4 separate regions of the Homo sapiens genome follow, and regions 1, 3 and 4 are each linked to region 2. The links come from fine-mapping of genetic effects on gene expression. A gene starts in region 2. Each other region holds a variant in brackets. All regions are shown on one strand. Distances are from middle to middle.

The links. PIP is the estimated chance that this variant, and not a neighbour inherited with it, causes the effect. A credible set is the group of variants that fine-mapping cannot tell apart.
Region 1: its variant is the best candidate, but not a certain one, in a credible set for the expression of ATP13A4 in lung (TOPMed, PIP 0.60).
Region 3: its variant is the best candidate, but not a certain one, in a credible set for the expression of ATP13A4 in sun-exposed skin (GTEx, PIP 0.72).
Region 4: its variant is the best candidate, but not a certain one, in a credible set for the expression of ATP13A4 in unexposed skin (GTEx, PIP 0.63).

The regions. Positions count from the first base shown.
Region 1 is chr3:193,409,291-193,417,047 of GRCh38, forward strand. It overlaps ATP13A4 (ATPase 13A4), which reads right to left. Exons shown (of 30, transcript NM_032279.4): 26 at 5,289-5,460; 27 at 2,888-3,081; 28 at 1,692-1,780. Among named protein-coding and RNA genes, the nearest start is that of ATP13A5, 34 kb to the left of the region's middle. The variant C/A (reference allele first, on the strand shown) is at 3,545.
Region 2 is chr3:193,551,469-193,559,225 of GRCh38, forward strand. ATP13A4 (ATPase 13A4) reads right to left here and starts at 3,427. Exons shown (of 30, transcript NM_032279.4): 1 at 3,272-3,427. The coding sequence starts at 3,331. It overlaps ATP13A4-AS1 (ATP13A4 antisense RNA 1), which reads left to right and starts at 1,745. Exons shown (of 2, transcript NR_121666.1): 1 at 1,745-1,819; 2 at 3,302-4,116.
Region 3 is chr3:193,513,197-193,520,953 of GRCh38, forward strand. ATP13A4 (ATPase 13A4) reads right to left here. Exons shown (of 30, transcript NM_032279.4): 2 at 1,502-1,675. Among named protein-coding and RNA genes, the nearest start is that of ATP13A4-AS1, 36 kb to the right of the region's middle. The variant C/T (reference allele first, on the strand shown) is at 2,941.
Region 4 is chr3:193,498,099-193,505,855 of GRCh38, forward strand. It overlaps ATP13A4 (ATPase 13A4), which reads right to left. Exons shown (of 30, transcript NM_032279.4): 3 at 4,395-4,541. Among named protein-coding and RNA genes, the nearest start is that of ATP13A4-AS1, 51 kb to the right of the region's middle. The variant T/G (reference allele first, on the strand shown) is at 4,760.

The DNA of each region.
Region 1 (7,757 bases), 140 kb before region 2:
ATGTTATAATTTTCCTTGCCCGCACATTCTACATTTTCTAAAAAGAACACATATTTTTATGTAATAATAAGAAAAATAATTGTTTTAAAAGTGAACAATAATTCTTTGCAGAATCCTTTGCAGTCATGCTGGCAATGACCCTACCCAGGTTCTCTCCAAATTAAATATGTTCCCTATTTTGTTATACCAGAGGACCCAGCCTTTCTGTAAGAATCTTCTTCTATTAAAAAGTGACATTCAACTCACCACATCTCATCCTTAACTTCTGTAGGATTAAGAAGTTTTAACTGACTTAGAAGACCAGTGGGCAAAGCCTACTTATTTCCATGAATACTTAATTTAATTCACGAAGGCACTTAACAACAGTGGTAATTACACTGCTAACCACAGTGATGTAGTTACAAAAATAAGAAGACTCATGCTAAACATATTAGTATGTCAAACTAAAGATATTAGTTAGTATGCCAAATGTCACTGTGGGTTTGTGCAGGTGTTGCTGGTTGGGAATGCACTGTATGCTCTAAGTGCTTGTTTATATTTAGGAGTCTGATACGCAATGATCAGTCAGTCATTCCTTTGTCATTTTTTGACATTCTTTGTGGAAGGCACTGGTAATACAAGAATGAATAAGATACACTGTTGGACCTCATGAGACTCATCTTTGAGATGGAGAGGCAACCAGATATACAAAGCACTCAATTAAAAGAGCTGTTTCTTTAGTCATCTCTTCAATATTGCATTTCTTGATCTAAAGATCATTTAGCCGTGATTAAATTGTAATAAAAGTAGGATAGGTTAAGGGGATCAAAATATGTTTTTCCCTGGCTTGGATATGTAAACTTTTGGTATCTTGTAGGTTTTTACAGCTGTATCAATATTATAAAATATAAGAGAGTTTATGAGGAAAAATATGGCTCTTGGAAAGTGAGTTTTACAGACATTAAGTATGAACACACAGAAAACATTTTTAAAGCCGTAAAAAAATACATAAATATATGATAACCAAAAAAAAAGCTATAGGCAAAACAGTTTTAAACAACTTCAAAAAAAGAAGCAATTAGGAAAAAATTCTCTCATATTTGAAAGAGAAAATATAGAAAAACATTTTCTCATAGGAGATCTTTTAAAATAAAAATATTTGGTTAGATGCAGTGGCTTAAGCCTGTAAGCCTAGCGCGTTGGGAGGCCAAGGCAGGAGGCTAGCTTGAGGCCAGGAGTTTGAGACCAGCCTGGGCAACATAGCAAGCCCTCATCTCTACAAAAATTTTTTTTTAAAAAATTAGCTGGGCATCATGGCACACTTCTGCAGTCCTAGCTACTCGGGAGGCTGAAGTGGGAGAATTGCTTGAGCTCAGAAATTTGAGGCTATAGTGAACTACGATTGCACCATGGCACTCCAGACTGGGCAACAAAGTGAGATCCTGTCTCTTAAATAATAAGAAGAAAACAAAATTAAAGTATTCAATACTTAAAGGCTGTCTTTAATCTCATGAAATCAAAACTGGGTAGAATTTTATTTCTTGACCAGTTTAAATAAAAAATATAGATAAATTTAGCATTTTTTTTAGCTCTGCCATCCCAAAAGAATAATTTGTGTCAAAAATCATGTCAATTGAAATTGTGATCTGCTTTTTAAAGTTAAACTGTTACATAACTGTAAAGCATCATCATATCCCAAAGATTAGACTTACATCCAAACGTCTATATAATTCTGGTATATCAGCAAATAGAATGAATAGACATACACCAAGCTGTATTATCAGCACAAGGACAAATATATCTGAGGAAATAAGAACACAAGGTATTATTTTGAGAAATCAGAGTGAAAAATGTCACATATATTGACGGATGTATTCTAGATTAACACTGATTTAATTTACTTGATTTCTACATCCAAATACTAGATGGAAAGTATTCATTTCTAAGCAATGGGTCTCACCTCTTTAATTTCTATGCATGTCCTTGAAGCAAGTGAAAATTTTCACATGCACATTTTAAGTTTCAATTAATAAAAGTAGTAGATATACATAGGGTAACATTGACAAAATACATGTTCAATAAATGCCTTGAAGACATCCAAGTATCTGAGTCACTTTAATGCAAATTATCTACCTCAAATCATTTTCTGGTAAAAAGGAAGCCTGTCAATAAACCAATTTTTAAATTGTTATCATATAGAGGTCAGTATTTAGCTGCTTCCTCATCCCAGGAAGAAGAAAAGCTAAATAATTTTCTCTGAACAAATAAATTTTTATGAAAATATTCATAAAGGAACTCAATTTGGGCTTTGAATTTTTTCAATAAGAAGAGTAGTGATGATATACAAATAAATGTCTTGAAGATTAAACAGGTCACTCATTTCTCATCCAAACATACCTTCCTACTCCAGAATGTAAGGAAGTAGGAGGGAGGTACTCTGGCCGAGAGCCTCCATAACCCTCTCTAGTCAGGTTCCTCCAGGCTGGACCCACTAGCAGCCTGCCACCACACAATGCCACCCTGACTATTGCCTTCATGGCAAGAGACAGGATCCACTTGAGTTCTGTTACGCTTCTCTCCACTGTTTCCAGGGTGAATTCTGACAAGTACTGACAAGTAGAGAAATAAATTGGTCTTTTCAATTTGGAGTGATCCCAAGAAAGACACCCAGAGGCAAACTTCTGGCGAAGGAAAGGGAGAAAGAAGCCCTAGTATTTAATGTAGCTTTGAAGGAAAGAGCAAAGAACCGTGAAAATGAGGCTGTACGATGTGTTTTGCAGAGTCCTAGAGTGGAAGTCAAGAGATGCTAGATAAGAATCAACTCTAAAGCTGTTCCCTAAGTGACCTGGACATGTCTGTTCCCCTCTCTGATGACTTCTCACCTCTGATGCAGTACAGTTCTACTCACAGTTTGTATAAGTTGGCTGTCTAAATGGTTTTCCTTTAGAGAACACAAGAGCCACAGTGATACAGTTGATTGTTCCCAAGAACCAGACTGTAGTGTTCTCAAAACTTGTGAAGGTGCTATTACTTTCCATTTTTTCTGGAGCAGTTGGAGACATGGTTAACTCTGAGATGCTTTCATTTTGTACTGTGCAGGCACTAAAAGGGAAAACCAAAGAAGCTAATGAAGTAAGATTGCAAGGCTTTATGGAGCATTTGTATCCAGAAGATTCCATACCAAACAGTGTCCAGAGCAGGCACTCAATGCTTCTACAATTGCCTGTGCTTTGGAAAACACACACACACACACACACACACACACACACACACACACACACACACTGAAAAATAGGGGAAAAAATCAACAAGCACAGATAGACCCGTATTTTGGATACATTGAGAGAGAGAGAGAGAGACAGAGAGAGAGATTCAGCCAATTATGTATTCAACAAATTATGCACATTCATTAAGGCTATATGGGAAAGAGATTGGTAAATCATGATTCCTCCCTCAAGTGGCTTAATATCTCTGATAATTTGGCCAAGTGTGGTGGCTTACACCTGTAATCCCTAGGAGGCCGAGGTGGTTCACTTGAGGCCAGAAGTTTGAGACCAGCCTGGCC[C/A]ACATGGTGAAACACCATCTCTACTAAAAATACAAAAAAATTAGCTGCACATGGCAGCATGTGCCTATAATCTCAGCTACTGGGGAGGCTGAGGCAGGATAATTGCTTGAATCCAAAGGCAGAGGTTGCAGTGAGCCTAGAACACACCACTGCACTCCACCCTGGGCAACAGAGAGAGACTCCATCTCTATAACAGCAACAACGACAACTGTTGCAGGAAGTCAGGGACTTTGAACAGAGGGACTGGCTGGAGCTCTGGCAGAGGAACATAAATTGTGAAGATTTCATTTTAATATGGACATTTATCAGTTCCCAAAATTAATACTTTTATAATTTCCTATGCCTGTCTTTACTGCAATATCTGAACATAAACTGTGAAAATTTCATGGACATTTATCAGTTCCCAAATAATACTCTTATAATTTCTTATGCCTGTCTTACTTTAGTCTCTTAATCCTGTTATCTTCGTAAGCTGAGAATGTACGTCACCTCAGGACCACTATTGTACAAATTGATTGTAAAACATGTGTGTTTGAACAATATGAAATCAGTGCACCTTGAAAAAGAACAGAATAACAGCAATTTTAGGGAACAAGGGAAGACAACCATAAGGGCTGACTGCCTACAGGGTCAGGCAGAATAGAGCCATATTTTTCTTCTTGCAGAGAGCCTATAAATGGACATGCAAGTAGGGAAGAGACCGTTGAATTCTTTTCCTAGCAAGGAATATTAATAGTTAATATCCTGGGGGGAAGGAATGCATTCCTGGAGGGAGGTCAATAAATGGCCGCTCTGGGAGTGTCTGTCTTATGTGGTTGAGATAAGGACTGAAATACACCCTGATCTCCTGCAGTACCCTCAGGCTTATTAGGATGGGGGAAAAAACCCCACCCTGGTGAATTTGAGGTCAGACTGGTTCTCTGCTCTTGAACCCTGTTTTCTGTTGCTTAAGATGTTTATCAAGACAATATATGCACAGCTGAACATAGACCTTTATCAGGAGCTTTTGATTTCACCCTTTGCCTTGTGATCTTTGCTTTGCCCTTTGCCTTGTGATCTTTATTGGCCTCAGAAGCATGTGATCTTTGTGACCTACTCCCTGTTCATACACCCCCTCCCCTTTTGGAGTCCTTAATAAAAACCTGCTGTTTTTGCAGCTCAGATGGGCATCACGGTCCTACCGATATGTGATGTCACCACGGAGGCCCAACTGCAAAATTCCTCTCTTTGTACTCTTTCTCTTTATTTCTCAGCCAGCAGACACTTAGGGAAATTAGAACCTATGTTGAAATATTGGGGGCAGGTTCCCCCGATAAACAACAACAACAAATCTCTGATAATTTGTAAGTGAGTTGAATATATAACTTAACTAACAAAGATAGTTTTGAAGGTGAAAAGGAAAGATGTTAATAATTTCACTGGGACATCACTTAATTTAAAGTGGGCTACTTAAACTGGGGCTGCTCAGGCAAATTATAATCCATGGTCACCCTAGATATCAAAGATGGTCATAGATCATTATCATATAAGACAGACAAAGATAAGTGCTAATGAATGAATGATACATTCATTAGCATTAAATCATGCTACAGAGAAGAAATAATCACTGAAAATTTGCCCAAGGGACTTTAAAAAGCCAAAACCTTTGGCAGAATGAAGACCCATGTGCCTCCCATCATATTGGCCAGAGGATGTTTGATAGAAATTAGAATGTGAGAAGCAGAAGCTGAGACTATACTCATACCTGTGTATCTCCACGGAATACCAAGGCTGCCTCTGAACCAGGATGAAGCCTGCAATATGCATGGCCAGGCTGAGAAGAATGTTGAAAATCACAGAGAGTAGCAGAGGTGGAGAGATCAGCCGTCCTGCAGGTCTGAAAGGCACCAGCTTAGGGTAGGCACCATTCAGATTCACTATAAAATAAATTCGAATTTTATATTTATGAGAGCAGGAAAATGTATTCTTGATCAGAAGAATGGCATAAGTTCATTGGCCCATACATTTGAGGAAATGGACAAACTGGAGTACATCACAAACTGAGGGAATAAAACAATTAATGGACTCAAATTCAAGTCATGTAAAGAATTCTTAAAAGAGCAGACAAAGCCACAAGATGTCACTTTTGGCCTTATAAATAGGGAAAAACTATTAAATTACAGAGAAGGGAGGGATGAAATATACTCTCTCATATATTGCTTGTGGGAAAATAAATTGATGCAAACCTTCTGCAGGGCAATTTGGCAATAAATGTGAAGAGACTGAAAAATGTTCATAACTTTCGACATAGTTATTCTACTTTTGGAAATTTATCCTAAGCTAAAAAAGTTAATCAGAGATGTGAAAAAATATTCATTATGGCATCATTTACAATAAGTTATGGTACATCTATACAATGGAACAACATGTAGTCACTAAACAGCAATGCTTTAAAACACTTAATGACAAATAATAGGTGATATCCAGCAAAATGGTGAAGTAGGCAGCTCCAAGTTCCCACATCTCCACAGAAATATCAAAATACAAGCAGAAACTGTCAGAAATCTGAAAATCTGAAAAACAGAAAAGTATACTGCAACCAAGTGAACACTGAATCAAGAAAAAGACAACTTTAGGATCACAGGAAAGTTTTGTGGCATTTCTACTTGCACTTGATCCACCCCCTACTCAGCTTAGTGACAATCCTGAAGATAGCCTGCATTCCCAGAGGGAGACCCTGGTCCCTGGTTACAAAAGGAGCATAGCAGGCCTTATTTACAAATTGTTACATATGTCTGTCCCAACCTGTCTGGGAACTACCTGAAGGATTGATGCAGGCACTCATCTCTGTTCCACCTAACACAGAACTCACTCTGGGCAGAAAAGCAGTGCACATTGCTTGAAAACATTATTAGGCTAACAAATGCAGTTGCCTAGGGCAAAAAAATTACAGTTGATACATAAAATAACCATCTAAAGCCTGGAAGAAAAGCTAAGGAAATTTCCTTGGAGGAATTAGGGCAGTCTAAAGCATCTGTGTATGCTGGGAAATGTAGAATGCTATGTAAATGCCCAGGGCAAAAGCTATGTGCATCCCAGGGCATAGTACATGCTCAGTAAAGACCAGAGAAAACCCAAAGCCTTCAGCTCTGGATTATCTCCAGACTCAGTGTAAGCCTGGCAAAGTGTTGAATAAGTACTCCAGCACAGAAATAATCTGTAAGGACTGGAGAAGGTTTTGTTTGTTTGTTTGTTTGTTTTTTCACTCCTAGAGGTCAAGCAAATCTCTATCAAAACATTAGCTGAACAAAAGCTGAAGGAACAGGGACATATGCGATCTCACATGAAAACTAGTACAGTCTTTCCAAAAAAAGCTTTGGAAAGTCACTAAACAAATGGACTATTACAGCCTTCAACAAAGAGTGAAACAAAAAATTCAAACCCTAAAATAGGAGAAGAATCTAATTTTCAGAGTTAGAGCATTATAATATTCAACAGAGCAAAATAAATGGACAGAATTTGTCCCTGAGGAAGCACAGATATTAGACTTATTAGGTAAAGACTTTAAAACAACTATCTTAAATATGCTGAAATAACTAAGGGAAACCACGGGCAAAGAACTAAAGGAAATTAGGAAAACAATGTATGATCAAAATGAGAATGTCAGTAAAAAGATAAAAATTATAAAAAGGAGTCAAAAGAAATTCTGAAGCTGAAAAGTACTGTAAGTTAAGTGAAAACAGCAAACTTGCAAACTTCAGCAGACTTGAGCAGGCAGTTTGCTGCTCAACAGCAAACTTGAGCAGGCAGAAGAAAGAATCAGTGAACTTGAAGGTAGGATAGTTGAAAATATCCAACCTGAGGAACAGAAAAAAAAATGATAAACAAAAATGAACAGAGCCTAAAGGGCATGTATAACACAAACAAGCAGACCAACATGTACGTTGTGGGAGTATCGGAAGGAGAGAAGAGAAAGAGACAAAAAGAATAAGAAATAATGGCAGAAAACTTCCCAAATTTGATGAAAGGCATAAATCTGCATATCCAAGAAGTACAAGTAATTACAATAGGTCAAACCCAATGAGATTCACATCAAGACATCATATTTGAGCTATTAAAAAACAAAACAAAACAAAGACAAAGAATCTTGAAAGCAGTGAGGGATAAGTGACACATCACCTATAAGGGATCTTCAGTAAGATTAGCAGCCAATTTCTCATCAGAAACCATGGAA
Region 2 (7,757 bases):
GACCTCATTTTTGTGGGATAGTATTTACTCAATTGGTTAATTGCTAAGCCCTTGGCTTTTCCTACCTTTATTTAGATGATAGCAGCTCACACCTCGCCAGAACTGTTTACTTCTCAAAACATGTTTATATGGATTATCTCCACTGATCTTCATGAGAACTCTGTGAGTCTGGTGGGGGTAAGAAGGACCAGTCCTATTTTACAGGTATAAAAACTGAGGCTAGAGCAGGCAAGCGGCTGGCCCAAGGCCGGTGAGAGCCAGGCCTCCCGTCCCGTCCCAGTGCTCTCCCAGAGTTTCCTCCTCGAAGCCTTTCTGAGGCAGTCATTTAGGTGAACCTTCGCTGAAGGCCACTTTCTCACCTTTCCTTCCTTCTCCCTCCAAAAGCTTCTTTCTACCTTTGGGTCCTGTCTCATTTCGCAGTTAAAGATATTATTTTCAGGTCACCTAGGGTTGCTCTTTAGTTCCTGTTTGCTTTTGGTTTGTTACTTGTTTATTTATTTATTTTTATCTATTTACTTATTTTTGAGACAGAGTCTTGCTCTGTTGCCAGGCTGGAGTGCCATGGCGCGATCTTGGCTCACTGCAACCTCTGCCTCCCAGGTTCACGCCATACTCCTGCCTCAGCCTCCCAAGTAGCTGGGACTACAGGTGCACGCCACCCTGCCTAGCTAATTTTTGTGTTTTTAGTAGAGATGGGGTTTCACCATGTTGGCCAGGATGGTCTCAATCTCTTGACTTGGTGATCCGCCCGCCTCGGCCTCCCAAAGTGCTGGGATTACAGGCACGAGCCACCATGCCCAGCCTGTTTTTGGTTTTTTAACTCCAAAATGGAAGATAATCCCAGGCATCTTTAGGCCTCAGAATATTCTTCTTTATTTGACATGAGGTCTAAACCCTAGCATGTTGTTTTCTCTTGAAATTTGAAGTAATTTCTACCACAAGAGAAATTACGTTTGCAAAGGTTCAAGTAAAGTATATTATAAAGCATGAAACTAAACACTTTGGTGTGACACATTTCTGGACTTGGAAGTCAGAGAAGACAGACTTATTTAAGCTACTCGAATTATCTAGAAGAAAAAAGAAACTCAAATTATCTATAACAGAACAGATGCTGGGGAATCTAAGAAGACTGGATGTTGATGTTCTCCTTAGCTTTGTTTTATGAAGGAAGGGAATGTGTTCTGTTAAGAGTGGAATGTTCTCCGGAAGAACTGGAAAAGGTATCAGTGGGCTATGTTCAGGTCCAGAGACAAAAGAGCTGTCAACTTAAACTAACCTGTGCGGTGCCTCAGCTCCTGGACTTACTGGTTGATGCAACCTTAGGGAAAGCCTGTGTGCATCAATTTCCTCATCTTTAAAGTTAGAATCACAGCATCTACCTCATAGGGTTGTGAGGAAAACTAAATTAGCTAGTGGCCAAGAAAATGCTGTGTATACTAAAAATCACTACAAAATATGTAGACTATATATATAGCTTGATAATTTTTAAAGTTTACTGCTCTGGGCAAGGGATGGAGGAGTGAGTTAAAAAGGAACACAGTGTCAGACACAGCAACAGGCAGGTGGCCAGGTTTCTGTAGGCAGAAGAGGATGGAGAGCTCAGGAGTGCATACTAATTGCTGCACCTCTGCTGAGACTACTGGCCAAATGGCTGCCTACCAGAAAACACAGTGTCCCTTTCCATATTAAAGGGCCTCTCCTAACTGGGCTTTCAGCTGCATACAAAACTACGTGGAGTTCTCCATGCATCTGATGGTGCCATTATGAAGATGAACTGTTAACTAAATTGCTTTGGTGGAATATGTATGCTAGGGAAGAGGTAACAGTTTCCCTACAACCATGAATGTCTTCTGGAAAATAAATGATTCTTATTGAGACTTGAAAGACAAATTGTCTGAGAGCAGAAAGGGGTTTACTGGAAAAGAGTGAGTGTATTTCTAAATGAGAGAGAAAAAAAATGTTTCAGAGGAAGGAGCCCCTGCCTTCTGGTGAAGAGTATTCAAGATGAAGATAAACTTTTCAACTTAATATCGAGAGTAATGAGATATTCACTTCCTAAAGAAAACTCTTTAAAGAAACAAAGATGATATCCAATGTGGGCTAGCAAGCCATTTCTGGTGACATTTGTGGAGGGGCTGAAGGCAATTCATTTGGCAGTCAAATCTGAATGAAGTAAAGGATATGGTTAAGAAAGGCACCTGAATTAATGTACATTTTACTTCTTTATAATTTTTTCAGCTTTGATAGCAGAAGGGATCTACTCTTGAAAGTCCAAAAAATGTTGTTGCTATAGGAACAGGTAAGCAGATTAGACTTGAAAGACCAGTTTAGGAACAAAGAATGTAATAGTCAGGGCTAAAGCAATTAACCAAGAAAACATTTTAAGTAAATATCTTTCAGGTTTGTTATTTACATATTAATTCCAGGAAGATTAAATGCTATTATGGAATGAGAGCGTCACATTTTAACATTTTAATTACATCATTACTGGCATAAAAGACTATGCTTACACAATTAGCAGAAAGATCTTATTAAACAGAAGTACATATTTCTAACTCTCTCTTGATTATATTGTAATTGAGAAATACAGTTTTAAATTCATCCTGAGCATGAAAGTCATCTTTGATTTTCCTATAGTTCTCAAGATAGAAGCACATCTAAAATCAAAGAGATACTGAACTACCGAAAGTTTTCTGTAACCAATCTCTATAATGAGGAAGCCACAAAAGTAAAATTCTAGAAGAAAACAGAAATGTGTGTAGGCTGATAATTGTTAATATTGCATGTCTTCCCTGTCCAACAGACTCGGTGAACAAGACATTTGAGAAGAGAAGGTCAAAGACCCAGCTGCACTTCTGCTTCACTGCTGAACTTCTGCTTCTTCCTATCAGGGAATACACTGCTCCTCACATTAGGGATTTCCTAAAATTGTTAGGTGTTTTGAACAGAACTGGCTATACCAATGAGGCTCAAACAAGAATCATAAAGTGCATGGTGCTTCTCTCCCTCTCTGTTTTCTTTAAAAAGAAAACATTCTTGACAAGATGAATACAATATTTTCATTCTAGCAAATTTCTGCTGTCAGAGGTTATATTTACAGGATAGAGAGATTTCTCAAACATGACCTTTTCTCGTGTAATACCAGAGTGAAATTTTAGAAAAGTCTGTGTGTGTGTGATGCGTGCGTGTGTGTGTGTGTGTGTGTGTGTGTGTGTGTGTCTCGCAGGCTGAGAAGTGGGATGGGAAGAAGGGAATGTGGCTAGAATCTTACCATCTCATTCTCTTCTCCTTCATTGAGCAGAGCGTGCTGGCCCTTCTCAAAGTGTCCCATGAAAAAGTTATTCCACACCTCCTCCCTGACCTTGTCGTGCAGACGCTTCCAGGATGAACTCCAACTCGCCGAGCCACCGCAGCTCCTCAGCTGACTAAAAGAGTTAATGATCCTCCAGGTTAAAACTCCTCCTTGAGCACACACCTTCTCTCAACAAATGACAATACTTGGCAAACTGAACTCCTCCCACGAGTCGCCCTCTGCTAGGAGGAATTGCTGGCTGCTCCCTGCTTATTGCATTCTCTCAGAGCAGCTGTCTCAAAGGAGGCTGCTCCCATGCCGATCTTTTTGTGCCCAACTTACAGGGAAAGAACTCATTGCCTGCCCAGTGCCTGCCAGCCTCAGACTTCTGACTGCAAATCCAACAGGACAATACAGAGTTGGCAGGACCCTTCTCAGGAGTGAGGAGCGGGTGCAAGAACTCCCAGGTCACTGCTTTATTCAGAGGACCTAAGGAATTGGGTTGAGCGGAAGCGCACAGAGCTGCAGATTTTCTTTGATGAATGAAAGCTTCAATCCACAGGTTTCTAATAGTACTCTCATTCATTTTGCTTACAAAAGGTACAGATTATCACTAATCCTCTTCAAAAGGTATTTGTAATCACATTTCCTTGTATATGCAAAAAAAATTCTATTTAAAGTGTATGTGAAATTAAGTTTACTTTTTTGAAACACATGTAGAAAAAGAACAAAGGTATCATCAAACTAGTCTATGTAGTCTCCTTTCACTAAAATATTGATGGTTCAACACTTAAGGAAGTCTAGAAATAAAATATTCAAATGACTATATGGCCAGACTCTTTTTTAATTTGTTTACACATTTATTCAATAAACAGTGCCTGAGCACAGGGACTACCTAAAAAAGTTAAGTCATATTTGCTACCCTCGTGTTGATGTAAGGATTCAAACATCCAAACAAATATGATAGAAAGTGGATTGTTATTATAAGAGATGGAACAGAAGTCTAAGAAAACTGTCAGAAGTCCCAATGTGGTGTAGAGAAACACACCCCTACCCTAGCTCTGGCAAAATACCTGTATTCCAGCTGCTTGTCTGCACTGGCCTTGCTGTGTGATCATTTAACTATAGGAACCGGCTCTTCTCATCTGGTACCGCCCGACAGGACTTTTGAGAGAATGGAATGAGATCATTGTGAAAGTACATTGTACAGCACTGATCAAGTGCTGTTAGGATTATTAAACTAAATGTGCATTTGAACAGTAGGTGTTAGGACATAGTGGCTAAGGGCATATACACTAAATTTGGAAGGCCTGAGTTCAAATTTGGACTGTACTAGGTGGTCGTTGTGCTACCTTGGGATATAACAAGTTATACAAACTCCATTCTCCTCTATTTCCTCACATGTAACATAAAGATGATGATAATAGAACCTACGTCCTAAAACAGACTTTTAAGAAAGAGTGCCTGGGAAATAATAGGTGTTCCACAAAAGATAGTTATTTTTACCTTCACCATGTCCACTGTCTGTCCCTCAAGCTACATTGGCAATGATATCTCCAACCTGACCCAAATAACCCTAATGTGACCAAGATCAATGTGTGCATGTGTGTGTGTGTATATGTTGTATGTGTAAAACCTTGAGCAAATAGTGAAGTATAGGATAAACATAAAAAGTAAGCTAAGTAAACCCATTGTAATAGTAATTACAAAATATATATGTACGTGTGTGTGTATGTGTGTGTGTGTGTGTATATATATATGTAGTTCTCTTGGTTTCAAAAATTTGCTAGCACAATTTAACCAAATAAATGAAAATAAAATTAACATTTTATCACAAGGTCAAAATATAAGGAGTAAAGGGTTTATGGGGGGGGTAATAAAAATGTTCTAGAACTACTGATGGCTTCAAAAATTTGTGAACATACTAAACCTCACTGAACTCTATACTTTAAAAGGGTGAATTTTATGAAATGTGAATTATATCTCAATGAAGAGATATAACAAATTTAAAAATCATACCTCAATAAAAAATTATACCTCAAAAAAACCTAACTGAACATTTAACAGCCTTACTAGGCAGTAATTATATATTTAGTACAGAAAAAAATATAAAACAAGCATATTCCAAATTTCATCTCAACTGATGGAGGTTGAGGAGTGTTAGTATGTGACGTGGTGAAACTATATCAGTGCTCCTGGGCAGGTGAGAAAGAAGTAATTCATTCTCCTGTTTATCACTGGCAATATTTGCAGTTTCCTTTTGGCTGGGTTCCTGAATGCACTTGGCAACTCTTGCACCGTTGTGGGATTGAGATGAGTGTGTAACTGATTAACAGCTAGAGGAGAAACTGTACACAAACTTACCCCATCAAATAAATCAGGTCATGCTGCTACAATATTTAAGCTAAACTTGAACAGGAAAATATGTAAGTCCTTAAGAACATTAAAAGCTTTTATAAAAATCAGATGTCCATGGAAAATTATTTTCCACAAACCTGGTTCAATAGAGCTGAGGACTCCAGTAGTGAGAGAGTTTCCTCAGGTTCCTTGGGAGTTCTATTGGTAAAACATCTAGATTTTATCGATGGCAACACTGCTTATGGACAGCACTCACCCTCATTTAGTGATTTTGGTCTACAAACATAACCATAACCAGAAACAGGGCTAGGTTGTGTGGGAAAGCAAAGAGAACATTTACAGAACACTTCCACATATGAGGCACAATTCTAAACAGTTTACACTCACTGTTGCACACAATCCTGACAAAAGCCTCTGTGGTTGATACTATTCTGGTCATTCTTATTTGACAGACAAGGAAACACAGGTGCAGACATTAAGTAATTTGCCTACATTCAAACCATTAGTAAGTGACAGAATGAGTATTCGGACCTAGGCAATGCAGCTCTCCCAATCCGTGATCCTAGTTACTGGACTAATACCTCTTCTACACATTTATTTGGCACATCCAAAGTGCTCTGCAAAGAGGTTTGCATTTATATGACCAGAAAAGCCTCTTTGTGAAGGAAGCATTTTGAGAAAGGCCTTGGAAAGAGCCAAAAATGCTTCAACAGGTGGAGATGCTGAGGCTCGGACAAAGAGTAAGGCCGCAGGAAAGAGCATTTGAAGCAAGGGAATCATCAGAGGAAGAAACACATGGTCATGTTCAGAGCAAGCCCATCAGCCTCACTGCAGCATGGGCTGCATGAAGGAAGAAGAGGGGAGTGACATGTGGCAGGGAAATATGGACCAACGCCATGCATGGAGGTCCTGAATGCCAGGTCTGAGTCTGAGCTTAGTGCACAGAGTGACAATAACATGGAAGGCAAACTGAACTCCATAAATATCCCTACTGTTCCTGATCAGCCTGTGCTCTCATATTATAGGAATCAGGTCCAAAGCGACTCAGTCCTTCTATGCAATACTGTATTTATGTAGACAGTTTTCTTGAACCTTCTAAGTTAAGTCTTCTATTTCTCTTAGGAACATTGTTTGAAAAGTTATTCTTGAATTCACCCTCCCTTTCCTTAATTGTGCCTGTTCAATATTTCTATTCTATACTCTACGTGCCTCACGGGTTGTGATGTGGCGTAGTAAGAATGGCAGATGAGGATTTGGTGTGGTCTGAATTCTAATCTTGACATTTTCCTGAAGGATTCCATTCACTCATTCACTTAGCACTAGTTTGATTAACTTCAGTATGCCCAGATCTGTAATAGATGAAGAATAGAGATTTAATAAATTATGCCCCAGAAAAGTTAAGTCCATTAAGAAACAAGACCAACACCAAAATATAAATTCCACATAATATGCTAATTACACAAGAGTGACAGAGGAACTTCAAGTAGGGAGTTAGGCCAGGAAACCCTCACAAGGATAGGAGTTTTATGCTTGTCTAGATAAATACAGGTGGGAAAGGAAAGCATTATTAACAAAGGAGACAGAGAGCAAAAGCACAGATGAGGGCTCGCACACAGCCCATTCTGGGGGCTACAAATTATACACATATATTGATATCTCAGAATTGAGAGGAATGTCCAAAAGGAAAAGTACCTTCGTTCATTCTCTGATTCTCTCCCTGAACTCATTTTTTCTCAAATACTCTCTCCCAAATAAGAATGGGAACGGAAAATAAAAAGGACAAATACTTAGCTACCTCTGCTGATCTGGCATCTCGGTTTGCTTTTGATTATCTTAGGAGCATGCCTGTTGTTCTGAGCAGTTCTCAACCTCTGTGATTGTCTAGAATAGATGTCCAATGGAAATAATGGCAGGACCGGTTTCTCTGCCAGGGCCGTGGGGATGCTGATGCTTCACTTGTCTGGCCCATTTAGGTTTTGTGATGATAAATGGTAATAATGTTTCATTATATGTTAATTTCCATCTTTCATCTGAGAACTCACAGCATATTACAAATATTGTTTTTTGCAACATCTCTGTGAAGTAGGGAGGTGAGTAGTATCATTGC
Region 3 (7,757 bases), 38 kb before region 2:
ACAAAGACCAACTTCCTCCAGTTCTCAGTTTCATTGGAGTTTAGCCTCACCTCTGTTAGATTTCTTTTTGGCCAGTTATAAGGCTGATTGCTATCCTTCTCTCTTACTGCATTAAATAGAATATGTATCTAGAGAGATTGTAATATATAAAAGGAAGCTAAACTCCCAACAGAGTTTGATTTATCAACAATTTGGTTGTCATTCGGGGCCATGGGCTGATGCATTCTTATAAACACTCAGTAAAAGTCAACTAGAAGAGAGTCCTCTAGGAGACTGTCCTTCCACTCTCTTTAATAGAAACATCCACTTCAGCCTGTCAGCCACCACATAGTAACAGAATCGCTACCACATGCAGGAACTGGGGGTGCAGCAATTAACACGTTAGAAATGCTCACTTCCTTTGAGAAGCTGACAGTCCCGCAGGGATGATGCACATTGTCCGAGTGCCATGAGTGCTGCAAGGAATTGGTATGGAAGGAAATACAGGGAAACTCACCCAAAGCCAGAGGCTTTTATTAACAGAGAGAGGCAATGGCCTCAAGGGCAAGATGGCTGCACTTTTTACCCTAGTGTATCTGCAGAATGTGACATGCTCTCATCAATCAGCTGGGACAGACAGCATCCTCCTCAGAGTGATGCTCCCCACCCCTTCCCTTCTTTTCCTCAGGAGTCACTCCAGTGCAGGGAGTGGGATATGTCAGGAATCGAGAGGAACGGTCAGTGTGAACTTAGTAGCCTATAGCCTGACTTGACTACTTCACATTTCCTGTTATTTTTAGCTATTAACATGTGGTTGTTCCCTGCTCTAGCATTCACGAAACTCACAACTTTAAAAGAAATATCTTGTGAAATCGCTCTTCTTGATCAAACCTCACCATCCACAATTTTTAATTTAACTTGTATTTTAAGATCGGGGAACATGTGCAGGTTTGTTATATGAGTAAACTTGCTTCATGGGGGTTTGTTGTATAGATTATTTTGTTACCCATGTATTAAGCTTAGTACCCATTAATTGTTTTCCCTGATCCTCTCCCTCTTCCCAGCCTCCACCTTCTGACAGACCCCCGTATGTGTTGTTCCCTTCTATGTGTCCATGTGTTATCATTTAGCTCCCACTTATAAGTGACAACATGCGGTATTTGATTTTCTGTTCCTGCGTTAGTTTGCTAAGGATAATGGCTTCAGCTCCATCCATGTCCTGAAAAGGACATGATTTCGTTCTTTATTATGGCTGCAGAGTATTCCGTGGTGTACATGTACCACATTTTATTTATCCAGTCTATCACTGATGGGCATTTAGGTTTGTTCCATGTCTTTGCTATTGACCATACACAAATTAGTGAAATCCTGCTAGATGCAAGGCTGTGATGAAACCTAAGGAACCAAAGACTGGAGCCTCCACCTGCTATCTGTCTTGTGCACATCTCCCCCCAGCCATCCCGTAACACATTGTCCAGAAACAAAAGGGGGGCACCAGCGACATAACCAGGTACACACTTACCGTTGTCCTCAGCAACACAGTGTCTGCTTCTTGCAAGGAACATGGGACACAATGTGCCCATACGTGCCATGCTGGTCTCCAGTAAAACACCAAGGGGAGGATTCCAAATGAGAAGATGGATCCGGCAAGGCAGAGACTTTTCCGGCAGCCTTGAGTCCGATAGCCAAATATCTCCTGGGACAGAATCAAAATGATACCAAATATTGGTTAAGCACAATAAACAATAAATGAACAAATACTGATTTTAGTGATGGAAATGGGGGCAGAGTGAAGGAGTTGAGGAGGGTGAGGAGAGGGCAGGGTGAGGCATGGAGAGAGTGGAGAGGAAATCTTGACAAAGAAGTGTAAGACATGATCCCAGGAAGCAAGGAAGTCACAGTCTAACTAGGAAATCAGTTTCTATCATTTGAGCACCTAGATACCCTGTGCCAAGCACTGTGCTAGGTGTTTAGATGTGCTGTCTTGTTTAACTCTCCCAATCATGCCTATCCCTGTGTTTTCCCTGAAGTGAGATAATCATCCTCATTTCATACATGGTGGGACTGAGCTTAGAGTGGCAGAATGGGATGATGTGCCCAAGGCCGCACAGCTAGAATGTCCCACTGCTAAGATTCCAATCCAGGTCTGTCAGCTGGCGAGCTGACAGCAGCACCAAGAGATTCCCTTGGCTGGGATCAGCAGACACAGGAGAGGGAGAGAAAAGAACCAGGCCTTGAAATCTGAGTCAGGATTGGGTGAAAGTATTTGACCATAAGAGGATTAACAAGTAAATGCCAGCTTGCCCTTGGGAGTTTGGGGTAGAGTTGTGCCTTCCCATGTTCCTTCCTCATTCATCAACAAACAATTTTATGTCAAGAGGAAAACACCATAGGGACTATTTGGTTTACTTCATCTCATTCTACTGAGCACCAATGCGTCATGAGAGGATATTATTAGACCCCAGAGGATACATACAAGACAAGATAAGAGTCTCACCTCTAATAAATATATAATCTAGACAAACGTCTTCCTTCCAAGGAAATCCTGAGATAGAATAGAAAACCATCCCTGAAGTTTATGGTCTTAGTCCCACAACTTTATCCCACAAAGTCATGGGTATACTTTACACTGGTTATGACAGCTAAAATTGAGAGGTAGTAGAGTGTCCTGGTTAAAAGCACATTCTCCAGACCAAGACTCTTTGGGTTCAGAGACTAGCTCTGCCACTTACTGGGCGTGTGATTTTTCAGTACATTATTTAACCTCTTTATTCCTCAGTTTGTCTTCCATAAAATGGGATAGTAATAGCACCCACATGACAGGGTTGTTGCCCTATGTAAGCATTTACTACGGCTGTTGCTGCTATTACTTGATCACATGTCTCTGAAATAGACCTGAAATTCTATCCACCAGTTTATTGGCAGTTAGGTACAAGAATTCCTAGTGTCAACAGTTCTGCT[C/T]TTGCTAGAATTGTCTCTTAGGATAACAAGGGAGTTGGAACATAAAACTTTAAATCTATCAACTTCTTTATCTCACCTGATAAAGATTACATTGCCAGGAAAGGTTCTGTGATGCTTGGCTGAAGGTTGCTTTTGTGTGTAAACATTAGATTCCTTTCTACTATTAGCAACACATACAGGTGCCGAATGGCTTTCTTAGGCATTGTCCAAATTTGGCATAACTGATAAAATGTTCTCATTAACTCAGAAATACAATCTCTTAACTAATTTTGCAAAGTAGAATGTAGATTCTGACATGAATACTCTTCTGCTCCAAGCTCAAGCCATTGCTCTCCAGATGCCAAGCCTAGAATGGCTCTGTCCCCTCAACACACTGGCAGCAATGCTCTCTTAATCCCACACAGAGCAGTGCCCTAGTCTTAATTTCCTTACTTGTCCTGAGTCCAGCTACCATTCTTTCCCATGTGCTTTTTCTATGTTTCAACACTTTGGCATAGATCAATTTGTACCTTCCGACTCAGCCATTTTTTCATCTTTTTAAAATATTATATTTAAAAGTTTCCTTATATTGCCAGTCAGTTGAGCCCCCATGTAATATGCCTGAGTTACTCGGTTCTATAGCAAAAACCTCTCTGTTACTATGCATTCTTTTTTGGGCTACGCAGTGAGGGCTCTCTACAGTTTCCAAAGTGTCTTTGTGTTCATTGCCAACATAAAGTAAACAAAAATTATTATCTTAATTCCCCATTAAGAAAACTAAAGTTCAAAGTTACTATAATACCTTTAATAGTAATAATAGTGATTATTAACAACTAATTATTGATAACAGTGCTAGCAGCTAACACTTATTGGGCACTTAATAGCCTTTCACTAAGCACATGATACATATTCTCCCATTTAGTTGAAAAAGATTAAATTAGTTTCCCAAGCCACAAAGCTCATAACTAACTCAAAACTGGGCCTCCAGTCTAGACCTCTGCAGCACATGGAAGATGATGTGGGCTGGCCATTTCTACTCCTATGCTCTTCTTTATTCTTTTATTTCAGTTCAATTTAACAAATGTTTGTTACATGTCCACCAAATGGCAGGCATGTGCTAGACGCAGAGATAAATAAGACAATATCTCCAGTCTCAAGGAGCTCATTAGTTTAGTAGAGAAGAGAGTCACACAAACAGCTAAGATTAAACAAGGTTAGAGCAATAAAGGGTTACATGGAGAGATAACCATATAAATTGTCACCTGAATGGGGTGCTATTAATAATAACACTGGGACAACAGGAGTAGGTGGGTGTGAAGCGAATGCTTCACTGTAATTTCCAGGCACTACAACCAACTGTTTTGTTTTATTTTATTTTATTTTGAGACGGAGTTTCGCTCTGTCGCCCAGGCTGGAGTACAGTGGCGCGATCTCGGCTCACTGCAAGCTCCGCCTCCCGGGTTCACGCCATTCTCCTGCCTCAGCCTCCCGAGTAGCTGGGACTACAGGCGCCCGCCACCACGCCCGGCTAATTTTTTTTGTATTTTTTTAGTAGAGACGGGGTTTCACCGTGTTGGCCAGGATGGTCTCATCTCCTGACCTCGTGATCTGCCCGCCTCAGCCTCCCAAAGTGCTGGGAGCCACCACGCCCGGCCTACAACCGACTGTTTTAAATGAATGCATTTCAATGGATTTACCTCGCTGCTCATCCAATCTGGACACCTATTAAAATCCTTGCCTCTGTACAGTTTCTTCTTTGCCACTCTTAAATACTAAAGAACATTTTTCTAAGTTTCTTCCAAGTTAATTTGACTTATAGATTCAGGTGAAAAATTCTCAACATGAATGACCTAATCTAGAAATCTTAAACTGGAGGCTCAAAAGGAATGACCTACAGTCTCATTTCTTTTTTACCTGTTAGGTATTTCTTAAAACTTTAAATTTGTCCCCCAGTTATTTTCACATAAAAATTAAGATTTCTACTTTTTCCTTAAAATAAATTAAAATGGTGACAATATTGTTCCCACATTCTTGCACTGCAGTAATCAGTTGGAGAGCAAAAAAAACCATGTGTAATATAACCCAGAAAATAACCCAGATGCCATCAGTGAGTGAGATGTACTGTGGTGTGTCCACACAATGAGATTTAATACAGCACTTCAAATGTATGAGCTCCAGCAACACACATCAATATGGATGACTCTTAGTAATAGAATAGGAAGTGAAGAAAGTCAGTGCAAAGGATTGTAATAGCATCATAACCTTTTTATAAAGTTAAAAACTGCTAGCATTTCAATTATTTGGGGGATATATCTAGATAAAAGAAAACCATATAGGAAGGAAAGCAAGGGAATGATGAACACATGATTTAGTACAGTGGCTGCCTCTGTTGGGGAAAGGCAGAGGAATGAGAGGCCATACTGTTACATGCAGATTATTGTCAAAGTCCTAGCTTTTGTTTGTGGTGATGGGTTCAGCACATTATTATAAAGAACTAATAAAGTAGCTAACCAAATTAATGCAACACAACATGGGCAAATAATATGAGTGTGTCACGAACCAAAGATTATGGACAATCTAATTGTGAGTACCTCAAGTCTTAGGAGAAAAAAGAACCAGCCAGAGCAAGTACCATATGCCCCCTCTAAATGAGCAGGTGCCCACTTCTTTTCTGTGGTTCCTGCCTTGCTTTCTTTTTTCCCCAACACTGAGGCTATATGTTAGGTTCCATCTCACATCTCATGCCAGACCTGCTCATTGGAGCTACAGTCTCACCCTGTAAACTAGTGGTTCTCAACCAAGGGAGAGTTTGTCTCCCAGGGTACATTTGGCAATGTCTGGAGATATTTTTGGGTCACCCAACTTCTGGCATCTGGTGCTCAGAGGCAGGAATGCTTCTAAGCACCCCACAATGCAGAGGACATTCTCCTACCTCCACCCTCCACAAGAAAAAAATTATCTGGTCCAAAATAGTGCCAAGATTGATAAAACCTGCTTTAGGCATTTTAGTTTCCTCCCACCTAAACTAGGCAGATCTTTAGGTCCTAGTGCCTAGGATGACATCTTCAGCACCCAAAGAACTAGAAAATTTTGATTTTGAAACCCATGGTAAAAGAGGATTGACACTTAATACTAAATGACCAACAAAGTAGGTAATGGTTGCAATGCAGCCCAACAAATCATTTCACAGATAAGGAAACTGAGGTACTAAGACAGAAAGCAGATTGCCCATGTGATCTACCACCTGCCTTCCTCTCCAACTCCATCTTGGACCACTTTCCCTCTATATCACTCTGTACCAGCCACGAGGACTCTTTCCATTTTGTTGAATTCACCCAGCCCTTTCCTGCCTCATGGTCTTCCCATGGCTTGCTATTTCTCATTCTTTCAGTCTCCTTTAAATATTTGCTTTTCAGAGAGGTCTCAGCCAACCATCCTATATAATTAAGCCCTTAATCTCATGTGCCCTTTATAATACTTTTGTAGAATTTTCACAATTTGCAATTTGTAATTTTTTTTTTTTTTTTTTTTTTTTTTTTTTTAGACAGAATCTTGCTCTGACTCTGTCACCCAGGCTGGAGTGCAGTGGCGCAATCTCGGCTCACTGCAGCCTCTACCTCCTGCGTTCCAGTGATTCTCCTGCCTCAGCCTCCTGAGTAGCTGGGATTACAGGCGCCCGTCACTGTGCCCAGCTAATTTTTGTATTTTTAGTACAGACGAGGTTTCACCATGTTGGCCAGGCTGGTCTCGAACTCCCGACCTCAGGTGATCCAGCCGCCTCAGGCTCCAAAAGTGCTGGGATTACAGGCGTGAACCACCGCACCTGGCCTGCAATTTCTATTTTTTGCTTGCTTTTCTGTTTCCTCCTTTCTGCTCCCCTACAACGAGGCTTTAATTTATGTCATAGTAGGATCAATTCAAGTTTTTTCCTCCCACGTTGTTTACCCAGCATCACATACATTATCTGCATGTAGTGGGCACTCAATAAATACTTGCTGAATCAATCAATATATAAATGAGTGGCTATATTAAAGGAAAGAATAAAGGAAGGAGACAAAGGTGGGAAAGGGAGGGAGAGAGGGATGAAGGGCAAGAGAGAAGGAGGGAAGGGAAGTTAATAAACCCGTACTCTCCTTGTTCCTAGCCCAACAAATTTAACTGTATTATCTCCCTGGACACTAAAAATAAAATCAGTCCACTGAGGGGAGGAAGGAGAAAACATAGCAACTCCCAGATGCTGCTCTGTGCCTTTGGTCATTAGGAAATGTTAAACTAGTCACATCATTTGCATTACATCAAGTTAATCTCTAAGTCTAGGTTTCTTGAATGAGTGCTAGGATTTTTGCTTTTTCTTTCTCTTTTTAGCCTGTCTCCAAGAGTTGAAAAGATGCTAAAGGTAAGACTGAGTTTTACAAACTCTCTGTCTTCAACAGAGCCAAACCAAGGGCCTGCCCTGGAAGGGACAAACTGGTTAGATATCTACTCTCCAGTCTCCTGCTCTAGTCCAAAAAGTGTGTTCACAATCACTTTAGTGTGAATTGTGCTGAAGTCCCAGTCTTGTATACTACTTTGCAAAAAAAAATTATTATTATTAAAAATAAAAAATAATAATCTCCAACAATGACTACTGGCATGCAGCTGAGTCCCATTTTCCATTAACAATGTTTACGTCCATTCAGTGGTTACAGGAGTGGCCCTTGAGGGGATCCTGAGGAACAAAATGAACTGGCCACAGCTGGCAGATAGTTGGGATGATAATCAAATTCTCTTCCCAGCTTTGGAATGTCACTTCTCTCTCATTCCCAGCTTTGGAATGTCACCTCTCTGGTCATTGACTC
Region 4 (7,757 bases), 53 kb before region 2:
ACCTATGAGGTGACAGATATGCAAATATACGAATTTGATTTATACATAATGTATACATGTATCAAAATATCACACTGTACCCCATAAATATGTACAATTATTATTTGTCAATTAAAAACAAAATTTTAAAAATCCTGGTAGCCAGATTAAACCAGTAAAAAAAAGAAAAAGAAAAAGATACTAAAATACTGAAAAAGATTAGGCTGGCAGCAAATACTAAAGAACAAAGAGGAGGTTATTACAAAAAAAAAAGGAAGTGAGGGTCTGAGACTGTTGGCAGTGGGAGAAAAGGGAAGGGTTGACGCTTATGACAATTGTGTGTTCTTGCTTCTGATTCTTTAAGCAAGTTCATATGTGAATGTGAATTTCCGTGAACTGATGACCTAACTGAACACAAAAAGAAACAGCGAGACTGCCATATTGTCACAGAGCAATGGTTATTATACTCTCAGGCTGCTCATTGGAATCATCTGGGGAGCTTTGAAAAAGACTGCTGTCTGGCCCCACCCTTAAGGATTCTGATTTAATTTGTCTGCAGTGCATTCTGGGCATAATATTTATAATTTTCCTCACATAATTTTAATGTGCAGCCAACAGTGTCTAGAGCTTCCTTTTGTAGCTACTCTGCTAGATTCCTATTTGAGAACTTCAACTAAATTTTCCTGTGCTTCAGTTTCCCCATGAATAAATTTAGACAATTGGACAGATTATGTCTATATTCTACCTCAGCTTCTCTCTAGGTATTCTATGTGCAAGAATATTATAGTCATTATAACCATTAGATACATTTTAAAACTGGAAAGACCATATAGCTGGCACAAAATAAGTGCTCAATACATTTTTTTATTAAATAAATGAATGAAAGCTTTGTAAAACCGTGTCAACTAGAAATGCAGTTTAAATCCCTTAGCTCTAAGGTCTAGGTTACCAAAAATGAATGCTAACTCTATGCAATAGGTGTATGTACAGGTACACATGTGCACGTGTGCAAACACACACACAGACATTCAAAGTTACCAAATAGCATGTAAAATGCTGTATTTTTTTATTTTACAGAATGGATTTATTTCAGCAAGGTTGATTGAAACATAATGCATTTAAAAAGTATATCTTATTGCCGATTTAGAGTGAATTTCCAGTAGGAATGACACACAATCTCTCTCTAATTTGCAGATTTCACAATCTGCAAAGGAAATATTTGTAAATGACAGGCTCTAGGGTGTGTTAGCCATCATGACACATGTTGAAATCTCAAGCATCTTGCCTCACAATTTACTTTTCTCTTCAGTATTCTTTGCAATTTTGCAAATAGAGCAGGATTGTAATCACAGCTACTATTTTTTGGGCATGTTAGGACTTTTCACACGTTATGTTTAGTCTTTTCCATCATCCTGTGGTAGGGCAGATATTATTTTCCTCTTCACTTTGCGCCTGAAGTTCATTTTGCTTAAGTAACTTCCCAGGAATTTGAACTCCAGCCCATCTGGCTCCAGAGTTCAATCTCTCAAAGGATATCATATTCAAGCTAGTCCCAAAGGAAAATCTGAAAATCCATTGACTTCAGGATTCAAGCTGTATAAAGTGATGGCTATCTACTTATTAATTATATAAATGCAAAAATCTGTGTTAGAAATATTTTAAAGGACAAATTGTGGTTCCAATGTGAGGCCCCTGATCAGTTCGAGAACCTCTTATCAAGAGGCAGAAACCACACACTGAGGTTGAAAAATGTATAAAACATAATAGACATGAAACATCTGTAGATGAACGCAGCAATAATGAGAAATAAAGAGGCTACTGATAAGTTTTACCTCAGGCCAGAAAATAGAAAATTCCATTATCTTCTGACAATTTCTTAAGCCATTTCTCACAGAGTGAGAAGAATGGCTCCATCCTAGACCTTTTGAGCATATTTGAGATTCCCGCAGGAGAAAACATCTCTGCCAGGAGTTTATCTGCTTCCCCCATCACTCTCAGAGCCTCTGGAAGCTGGTAAGAGGATGTTAAGTACAATATTTGCAAGAGATGAGGTTTATTTGCCTATTTCCTGGAAATTCAGACCAGGAAACAGCAATTAGGAAACCAAGTATCTGCTGCGGGGTGAATTTCATCTTTCTGCTCAGGAATAAGGAAGATTTCCTCTCCCCGGGCTTTCTGCTTGTAATTTCTTGTTAGAACATGTTATAAGAGCATCCTGTTTAACAAGTTAAGCACTGGGTGTTAGCTTTGCCTGTAATCCTGCAAGATGGTCCTTAGCATCTCCTCTTAGCCTGTTTCCAAACCTGACATAGTTCTTTGCTGTAGTCTTCAGACTTCCTTTAAACCAGCGATCTCCAACCTTTTTTGGCACCAAGGACCGGTTTTGTGGAAGAGAATTTTTTCACGAATCTTGGGGATGCGGTGATGGTTTCGGATCATCAGGCAATCATTAGATTCTCATAAGGAGCACCGTAACCTAGATCCCTCACATGCGCAGTTCACAATATTAAGGATTTCACTCCTATGAGAATCTCATGCTGCTGCTGACCTGACAGGAGGCAGAACTCAGGAGGTAATGCTCGCCGGCTTGCCAGCAGCTCACCTCCTGCTGTGTGGCCTGGTTCCTAACAGGCCATGGACAGGGCACCAATCGGTGGCCTGGGGATTGGGGACCCCTCCTTTAAATGCCCCTAAATGGTTACCCTCTTGGTAATGCTGTTATTGTCATCAAGGCTGAGCCCATGACAGCTCCTCTGACTTTAAGGAAAGTTTTGTTACTAGCATAGCTCATTGAAGTTCACAAATGACCTTAATATCCATCGTCTCATTGTGTGTTCATAACAGCCCTGAGAAAGGCAAAGAAGGGGTATTACTTTTATTTTATAAATAAGAAACTCAAGACCAGAGAGGCAGTAACTAACCAAACTGCCTATGCCGTAGCTGGTAAATGAAGATAGTACACCTATCACAACTTTCCATTTCAAGACCTCTGCCCCTCCTACAATTCTGTGTGTTGACTTGGCCATTTCTTCATTTATCTGTCCACTTATTTATTTGATGCTACTAAAGATGCTAGAATTTCAGAGCAATAAAACTATGAGAACATAGGCTATCTGGGAAGCTTATTTCTCCAGGTGAATGGACATCTAACAGATTAGGGAAACTATTATTTGGAGGTACTTGACCTCCTTTGTTTTTGTTTATTTGGGCAGCTAAGACAGCTGAGTGGGTGGGGTGCAGTGGCACACCCCTATAATCCCAGCACTTTGGGAGGCTGAGGTTGGTGGATCACCTGAGGTCAGGAGTTCAAGACCAGCCTGGCCAACATGGTGAAATTCCGTCTCTACTGAAAACACAAAAATTAGCTGGGTGTGGTAGCAGGTGCCTGTATTCCCAGCTACTTTGGAGGCTGAGGCAGGAGAATTGCTTGAACCCGGGAGGTGGAGGTTGCAGTGAGCCAAGACAGCGCCATTGCACTCCACCCTGGGCAACAAGAGTGAAACTCCATTTAAAAAAAAAAAAAAAAAGACAACTGGGTGATAACAATTGACAATAGGAAAATTGCTCATAATTTACTTTATTACTTTAAATAACTGAACTTGAGCTCATAAAACTAATTTAAACAGCTGACCACACATACATAAATGTAAGACAAAACATTCTGTCTTATAAAATGTTTTTAATATGAATGTTAACTAGTCATAATCCAAGCAGAACTAATTTAATAGGGTGAAGAGGGAGCAACCCAAATACATTTGAATGACAAGAATTCAAATAAGGTCATTTTTGTAGGCATAAGCAAACCTCCTGGGATATTCCTGGGTGATTACTTTTACTATAAGATTAACCCTGTTACATAGATTGTAATATGGGGAACGATACTATTAGAGCTAATATGTAAGAGCTGGGCTGGGCGGTACATGCCTGCAATCCCAGCTACTAGGGAGGCTGAGGCAGGAGGATCACTTGAGCCCAGGAGTTTGAGGCTGTAGTGTATTATAATCATGCACCTGTGAATAGCCACTGCACTCCAGCCTGGGCAACATAGTGAGATCCTACCTCTAACAAAAGGAAAAGAAAATAGAGCGAGTATGTATTGAGCATCTGCTATATACCTGGAACTACTTTAATCTTTGTATTTCTAAATTTATTGAATTTTATCAATTAATATTAGAAATAGACATTATTATCATCATTTTGTAGATGAGAAAACAGGCTCAGCAGAGTTAAGATCAATGGTTGCGCTATTTAGAAGGAGCAAGCTGAGATTTGGACTGTCTGGCTCCAAAGTTCACATTTTAAATATACACTATCAAATGAGGATTGGCACAGTAGAGGAGCTACATTTAACTATATACTTGAGGGGAAAAAGATTAAATCTCTCTGACATCAGCAGTAGCCATAAGTTTACTTACCTTTAGGTCTGGCTTTCTTATGGCTCTATTTATGATATACTCCTCATCTGTCATGAGAGGGTGGTCAGGAGTGAGACCAAATGCGCTGTTTAATGCTGACAGGTAGATCCATATTACCTTTTTCCAAGAGTAAATTTGGAATTCATCCTGAGGAGATAGACATCAAAACCCCCAAGAAGTTAAGAGAGGTCAGCAGGCTACAATTCAACCTGAGAAACATCATTTTAATATAATTCTGTAAGTGTTTGGCGTTAGTGAATATTCTAGACAGAACGGTTTGTCTCTGAAAGATGATGGATCTAGAACCTTGAGGGAAAAAGACCTGTCATCACTGACTGAGGAATCTGGATATGAAGATGAGGCAC[T/G]GACACATAACAAAGCTTGAGAATCAGGAGGCTCATTCGCAGGTAAGAACTAGTTCACTGCATCACCTTTCAACCACCTTTCAGCCCATGACCTGATGACCATCCCCATCTTTCAAGGCTTAACTCAAATTCCACCTCCTACAGAACAGCCTCATTAACACCCTTCCACCGGGGCGGGGCAGGGGGGGGAACTATCACTTTGTTAACTCCAAAAAAATGTTAAGTGTCCCTCTCTTGTGCTCTTAATCACTTTTTCTAGTCCTTCTAGACTACCTGGAATGCAGGGATCACGTTTTATTGTTCCTTATCTCCCATTCATGTGGAGCACTGAGACCTGCTCAGTCAGAGTCTGAAGAATGGAAGAAAAAAACTGAATCCATGGACTGAACCTGCCCAAGGTAATTGCCAAGATGTTAGCACAGGTGGGGTTGAAGAAGGCACCTTATTGCATGACCCTAATTAAAATTGCTTCCATTTGCAGTTCACTGATTACTTCACACAGAGTAAAATTAGAGGGAGAAGCACAGGATTGAGAAACAGATACCACAATGGTCCCTTAGAGACCTATTTGACAGTGGTTATTGTCTGAATAGGGAAATACTAAACATAAAACCCACTCAGATGACTGACAAACCTCAGGATTCAAGAAGTATAACAGAAAAAGTCAAACGTGGGAAAAATTTGATGCTTGGGAAATGTAGGTCAGAGCTGGAAATTGTCTCCACCACCACACCCATTTTTGCTATGAAGAGTGCCCTAGCTGACTCTGCAAAAGGCAGAGAGGGGAAGATACAATCATTGTAGCTAATCTCTTATATTCATCCTCCTAAGAGAAGACCGTCTGTATGCCTTTGCTCCTGCTGCTTCCTTAGCCTGTAGTACACATTCTTCTCTCTTCTCCTTAAGTCTTTACATGGCTGGATTCTACCATCCTTCAGGGTCCAGCTCAGAGTTTATGTCCTGAGAACCTCCCTAATTACTCTGGGTGATCTCTCCTCTAAATCATCAGGATACTCAAGATTCCTACCACATTTTACCCTTTGCCTATCCACCTTACCACTTCTCTTGGACTATGGGTAGGAATTGTGTATGATGCATGTCTGCACTTCAGCCAGGCTTAGCACAGGTTCTGTGTGCATGTGTGTGTGTGTGTGTGTGTGTGTGAGAGAGAGAGAGAGAGAGAGAAAGAGAGATGAAGAAGGGAAGGAAGCCAACAAGAGGGGAAAATAACCTTAATAGAAATTGGAATATTAATTAATTAATCAATTTTAAAAGCCAATGTAATTGGCTGTTACACTGTGGATTTAAAAAAAAAGGTGACTAAATCAATTCAAATCAAATTGTATGGAGTTAAGAATGATGAGCCTAAGAATGGTGGAAGGGAGCTAAATTTTCAATGACTAAGTCACCGATCTGATGATAGACATGGTCTAGGTATGGTAGAGTAGGCAACCAACTCTCTTGAACAAACCTTGACACAGTTCAGCATTATATAGCTTTGCTTTTGACTTTATCAAAGCAGTTTTTAAGTAAGAACTTTCCATTTCTAATAACAGTTAATATTTATTTCACACTTATTATGTTCTAAGCACATAATGCTACATATGTATTATTTCATTTAATGTCAAAAACACTATGGAATTGTTACAGTTAATTATTCTCCCATTTAGTTGGCAAGGAAAGAAAGACATACTTGGTAACTATTAGAGCAGGCACTTAACAGTCACCTCCCCACTCCTGCTTGCCTCCTCCAGAGTCCCCTCTAACCTTCCACTTTATTCTACATTTTGCTAAAAAATATAATTTGATTGGACTGCCATTTTTATGTCGAGCCTGAACTGGAACTTCTAAAAAACATAGTTTCAATGAAAAATTTGGTAAGAAAATGTATAATTTGTAGGTAAATAGGAACACAAATTATAAAAGAGCCATCAAGACCAGAGACCTCTTGCCACCAAGTAGGGACAATTAGGAAGACAGCAACTATTAATCGTCTCCAGTGAATTAAAATAATATTAACAACTTTCATATGTTTACCTAGCAGTTTCATAATTTTCATATGATTACATAGCAGTTTGTAGAAATTTTGTTATGTTATCTTATTTTAGGCTTACAATTCTCCAGTGTTGGTATTATAATTATCTCCATTTTGCAGATGAGAAAACTAACCACCAGCAAGGCTAAGAATTGCTCAAGCCAGTCTGAAACTGGTAGTAGGAATAAAACTGAGACCTGAGTCCAGATCTTTCCATTCCAAATCTTGGTCCCTTCCTCTTTATTTCAACAAGTTGTCCCATGGTGTCTATGGCTTGCATGTAAAAATCACCTTGAATTCTGTACCAACTGACAAATAGTATCCAGTTTCTCACAATCTCTGCTCTCCTGACAGCATAGAATCTAATTCCTGAAATCAAGCTGTCACCCTCTGGCCCTGTGTGACAGCAGACAGACCTCCAGACTGTAATGCCTAAAGAGGGAAAAGCAAAGTGTCCAGGTTCTCAAAGGCCATATTAATCCAGTGCACCAACTAACTGTATGCCTTAGTCTAGGTGTGTATTAAAAACTGACATTCATCTATACACCTATCTCTTCTTATAGCTCATAATATTATCAAATCAAAGGTACTTGGATATATTTGCCTTTAAGCTCATTTCCTAACATCCCCATTTACTCCCAATCCCAATACTCATAATTCTGTATGATACAAAGTAGAATAAAATAATTCTACTAATTATGTATCATACATAATTCTGTATGATACAAAGTAGAAAAAATAAAAGATAGGACAGCTAGATGACCCTTTTGCTTAGAGTAGGGGAGTGACACTGACTTCTCTCTTGTATACTACCCTGTTGAGGACTCTGTCAAATCACCCAGCTTTTTAAGGAAAAAAAGCAAAGAAATGGAAGGAAAGTACACCAGTGTGAAGTGGTCACTTCAGGCAAAATCATTGACTTCTCAGTTTTCATTTTGGGGTTGTCCAATATGGCAAGAGCAC